Linked DNA regions of Homo sapiens: region 2 is linked to region 1. A link means that fine-mapping ties the variant in region 1 to the expression of a gene that starts in the linked region. Tissue or cell type: blood mononuclear cells. Region 1 holds a variant in brackets; the other region holds the start of a gene. All regions are shown on one strand. Distances are from middle to middle.

Region 1 (2,500 bases):
CCAACGGCCAGGATGGGGGAGCCAAGGGACACTAGGGCAAAGGACATGGGGGGCTGGGGGTGAGTGGGGAGGCCCTTGTGACTCTCCTCGTTGGCAGGAAGAGAGAAGGGGACTGAGAGGGAAACTAGAAAGAAGCTGAGCATGAGAGGGGTCAGAGATCAACGGCATCACCCACAGCAAGGAAGGGGAGGGGAGTTTTCCTCCCAGACTGGGCAGAGAGACAAATGCTGGGCACCAGGCGAGTGGGGGTGGGTGCTAGCGACCGGCTCCTCGGCAGGTGCTCTGGTGGCTTCACCGGAACTCCCCCGGGACCCGCTGCTCACCTGGAAAGAACACAAACATCTGGTCGGTGGGGTCATCGTTGTGGGCCACCAGCACGGTGAGGTCCGTGCGCCGCGGCCGCCCCTCACTCGGCTTGTCCCCAGATTGGGCTTTGAACTCCTCCAGGGTCTGGTCAAGCTCGTCCTGGGTCACCAGATAGCCACGGTCGTGGCACAGCTGCAGAGAGAAAGAACCAGCTGACCCCAGGGCAGAGAGAGGAAGGCGGCCAAAGCTCGTGACCCGGAAGTCAGACCTGCGGCTGCTGCAGAGGACAGAGGTGAACAGCAAACGGGATGAACACTCACTGTGTGCTCCATGACAGCCACCCCGGCCCCCACAGCCTCACACCACAGGATGGGACCAGTATGATCCTGAGAGGCTCCCAGAGATGTCCAGCCTTGACCAAGACCGTCTGTCCACCCAGCCTCACAGAAACCTGGCAGGGAGCAAAGCCCTCCAAACCACTTTGCAGAGCTACCCTAAAGGCAGGGACAAAGGCGGGGCGCGGAGGCTCACGCCCGTGATCCCAGTACTTAGGGAGGCTGAGGCAGGAGGGTTGCTGGAGGCCAGTTCAAGGATGCAGTGAGCTATGATTGCACCACTGCACTGCAGCCTGGGCGACAGAATGAAACCCTATCTCTTAAAAAAAAAAAATGACAGGGACCGAAACAGATGTGACTTCAGGCTGACAATGTTTGAGGATCGGAGAAAGAAGAATCAGGCTGCGGGGGGCTTCGCTGAGGACAAGGGCAAAGGGTGGGAAGCAAGACAAAGCAAAAGCTCTCAAACGGCCCCAATGGCTGAGGCAATACCCTGAACCGCAGGTCCTCAGGCCTGTGCCCGGCTTCCAAACCGGACTCGACCCAGTGGCCTCCATCTGCCCCAGACCCCAAGGCACGGGTTCCGAGCTCCACGTCCCCATCGAAAGCCCCAGCTCGCCCGCTGCTTCCCAACCACCAACTCTGCCAGCCTC[G/A]GATGCTGAAGACTCCATGGGGTTCAGGACGCAAGGACAAATAGCGACGCTGAATCACAGAGAAGGGCAGAGTCTGGGGGCGCCCCCCGTCCCCATTCGCGGCTTCCTCCTCCTCTCGCCGCCACGCGCGCCGCACCAGCCCAAGCCGCCCACCCACCCCTAAGCACCGCACCCAGACGTCTCGAAACCCCCTCCCTTCCCCGCTGCCGGCTCAGGTCGGGTCCAGCGCCTGGTATCCCCGGCGACCTCTGGGCCTCCCGTATCGGCCCGGCCCTTCATCGCTGCTGCTCCGACGAGAGTACGAGGAGACGCCGTGCTCGACCCCACCTCGGGCCCCTACACCCGCCGCCCGCGCCCCCGCCCCCAACACCAGGCGCGGCTCACCTGCATGATGGTCTTGCGGATTTTCCAGAGCCGGTACGTCTCCTCCTCGTCGTCCATGGCAGCCTCCGCCGCCGCCGCCGCTCGCACCCCTTCTCCGCGCGAGAACCCGCGCGGACTGCGCCTGCGCCGAATCCGAATCAGGCCCCCTCCGCCTAACCCCGCCCCGCGCTGGTCTGTCGTCGGCGAATGCCTGAATGCAGCAACGTCTCGGATCGGCAGCGCCAAGGGCAGCCCGAGCCTTACGAGAGCGGCAGTTGGCTGAGCGAGTCTCTCGCCTCCGTAGTTCTCGTGTGTCTTTGGCCGCACAGCCTCTCGGGAGTTGTAGTTTCCGTTCAACTCCCACCTTGGAGCAACAGTTTAGAATCCCACGAGGCGGGGGCGAAGTGTGAGCGGGGAAACTGAGGCCTGGATGGGGTCAAGGGGCAGCTCGGCTCCTAGGGATGGTCTGGGAGCCTAGTGGGAACTCTATAAATATTTGTGCATCAAACTGTACAGGGTTTCCTCCATTGGCTCCTGGCCAGGTCAGGGTTAATTCCCTTGGGCCTCAGTTTCCCTACCTGTGCAATGGCAATAAAGTGTCCCTACTTTAGACGGTTAACTGAGAGTCTTAGGCATCTCTCTAGGTGCTTATTAAGTCCCCTCACCTCTGTCCTCTCCCCTGAGCGCCACCAGCCTAGCCTGGGTATCTCCCCAGCCTAGCCTGGGTATCTCCCCACCCCAGACTCTTCCTGTCTTTGCAAACCTCCTCACTTCCCCAGGTTCACGGAGAACCCCAGCCCAACACTTCCTGTGTGCAGGCTATCAGTAACTTATTCAGTGATG
Region 2 (2,668 bases), 28 kb before region 1:
CCCTGGACTCAGGCTGGCAGAGGGGCTGGTGCCCTGGAGAAAATAAAGAGAAGGCTGGAGAGAAGCCGTGGTGGTGAAACCGTGTGCATGTGTGTCCTTGAGCCAGGCTGCACACATGTCCACACAGCTGCCTGCACATGCGTCTGGATATGGCTGGCCCCTTGCAAGCTGAGTGTGCACATACGGGCCAAGTGGCGATTCATAGGACACAGGTGTGAGCGTGCCTACAGCTGACCGGATCCCAGCTGTAAATGCCTCTGTGGCCAGCCCAGGAGTTGGGGATGTGAGTGCGGGCCTCATAAGGGCCTGGTCACACCGTCCCTGTCCCCACGTCCCTGCGTGCCTATGTGGGGCTGGCGCCTAAGGGCGGTACCTGTAAGTGCCTGGCCATAAAGTGGGGATGAGGTCAGGACTCAGGAATGTCCTGGGAAGCTTACAGGAGCCCGGTGTCCCGGAGCACAGGCCAGGGCCGGGCCAGAAGCCCATCCGACATCCAGCTGACCCTCACCCTCTGACCCCAGCCCTCAGCGCCATGAGTCGGGGGCAAAGAGTTCTCAAGGGTCTGCTGGGCTGGGTTTGCACTTGGACCTGGGCCTGGAGAGCCAGACTTGGAGCAAGGGGCTGTGGCCTTCATGTCCTGTGCCCCAGAGATCTGCCCCTCCCACCCGAGGTAGGTGGGAATGGGGTTTGGGAAAGGAAAGAGGTTGGGGTTTTGGGATTGGGGGTGGGGTTCTGGAAGGGGACAGCAGGGAGACTTGGGGAGGGGGGAGAGAGTTCACACTGCGGGGTGGGGGTTGGGGGAAGGTAGGAGGCTGGGATCTGTATGCCTGCAGATGCCCCAGCTCTTGGCCAATGCCGCCTCAGGCTGTTATCAGCAACGGGTGCCTGCGTCCTGCTGCCCAGCACGTCCGGTGGTCCAGAGTCACTGGAATGCAGCTTGGGAGGCGGGGCTGGGGACCTTAGCTAAGGGCAGGTCTGGGGCAACATGATATGGCCCACAGGGCTGCTGAGAGGTAACCAGGTGTCCTCAGCATATTCTGCCGATGGTGGGGTCCACACCACACTTTGGGGACCCCTGTGCAGGCAGCCCAGGACCAGGTGGACGTGGGGACCCAGACGGACGTGGGGACCCAGACGGACAGGGCCCGGTAACCTGGATTGTTCTGACTTCCTGGACGTCTTTGCCCCCAGGGTTTCGGTTCTGGGCCTCAGTTTCCCCACCTGTCCTCGACCTGACCCACTTCACGGGGCTGCAGGGCGGGTGATGGGGGGGACCCTACTCTGCCCGGCCCTGCTGGGGCCCGGCCACACCCTAGGGTCTGCAGGAGAGGCGGTGGAGCGGGCTTGCCTTCAGGGAAAAGGGGGCTGCAGGGGCGCAGCTTCGGCCTGTGCGTGTGTCTGGGGTCTGAGGGCGAGGCTCCAGGGGCTTGGTGGCGTCTGAGCGCGTGTGGAGGTCCGGGTCTCTGCGTGTCATCGTGCACGTGTCTGTGCACGCCCACTCGCGTCCGGGAGTGAGAGTCAGCGCCCTGCAGTCGGCCGCCCCGTGCCCGCCAGCGTCAGGCAGGGGCTCCCGGTCCCACCCCGCGAGCGGCGCGGCTCCGAGCTCCCGAAGGCGGAAGCGGGGGGCGCGGCCCGGGGCTGGGGGCGGGGCCTGCGACCTCACCTTCGCGCCCACTCCGCAGAGCCGCAGGCTGAGGCCGGGAAGGGTCGGGGGCGAGGCCGCGTCGCCGCCTCCCCGAAGCCTTTTCCTGTTGGGGGGAGGGCCCGCCAGTGACGGCCGGGCCTGTCACGTGGGCCTGACAGCTGGGGAGGGGGTGGCCGGCGACAATGTGGTCCCGAAGCGGCCAGCGCCGGGAGCTGCAGCGCTGAGACCCCCAGCCCGCCCCCTCGGGCTCCCGGCCGGGGCCCCATCATGTTCTCCAGGAAGAAACGAGAGCTCATGAAAACCCCTTCCATCTCGAAAAAGAACCGCGCGGGAAGCCCCAGCCCGCAGCCCTCGGGGGTGAGTGGAGCCCGGGTGAGACCCGGAGCTGACGCCGGGCCGCAGGGGGACAGGGACCCGCCCTGTGCTCGGGGCTCATGCTGGGGCGGCGGCTGGGGGCTCGTGCCAGCTACAGCCCCTACCGGGCGGGACGGCAGGGGCCACAGCAGAGAGGCCGGGACCCCGGCATTCAGCTCACGGTAGGGACCCTGGGAGTGGTGGCCGCCTCCCTCCACTCCATCCAGGGCTGGCCGCGGGGCCCAGGGAGCAGGAAGGGAGGGTGCCGGGTTGGGACGATGTTGTGTTTGGGCCGCTGCAGGTTGGGGGCTTAGGCAATCTGGGGGCTCTAGGGGCCGTTGAGATGGGAGGGCTGTGGCCTGGCCATTGGGCTGAAGGTTGACCGGGCAGCAGATCCTCTAATGGGATCCACCAGGTTCAGAGGTTGGGGAGTGTCCCCAGGCCTGGGGTGTCTACAAAGCTGGGGGGGGGGTCTACAGAGCTTGGGGGTCCGGGATGTCTACAAGGCCTGGGGCTGCCCATAGGCTCTGGGGTTCCATGGACCTTTAGGGGACAGACAGAGTCAGAAGTGTGTTCACTTAAAGCACCTGCGTTGTAGGAGCCTGAGGGGGGCTTGAAGGGCTGAGGACCCTCCCCACCCCCACCAGGAAGTGGGGACCCCCCTCCCGC

What was found. PIP is the estimated chance that this variant, and not a neighbour inherited with it, causes the effect.
Region 2: it holds the start of ARHGAP45, and the variant in region 1 is fine-mapped to the expression of ARHGAP45 in blood mononuclear cells (TOPMed, PIP 0.95).

Annotation. Positions count from the first base shown.
Region 1 is chr19:1,093,581-1,096,080 of GRCh38, forward strand. POLR2E (RNA polymerase II, I and III subunit E) reads right to left here and starts at 1,795. Exons shown (of 8, transcript NM_002695.5): 1 at 1,679-1,795; 2 at 324-498. The coding sequence starts at 1,735. RefSeq lists enhancers at 446-981, 1,739-1,828. The variant G/A (reference allele first, on the strand shown) is at 1,295.
Region 2 is chr19:1,065,494-1,068,161 of GRCh38, forward strand. It overlaps ARHGAP45 (Rho GTPase activating protein 45), which reads left to right and starts at 1,674. Exons shown (of 23, transcript NM_012292.5): 1 at 1,674-2,002. The coding sequence starts at 1,913. ABCA7 (ATP binding cassette subfamily A member 7) reads left to right here. Exons shown (of 47, transcript NM_019112.4): 47 at 1-79. RefSeq lists an enhancer at 1,117-1,623 and silencers at 1,484-2,243, 2,554-2,668.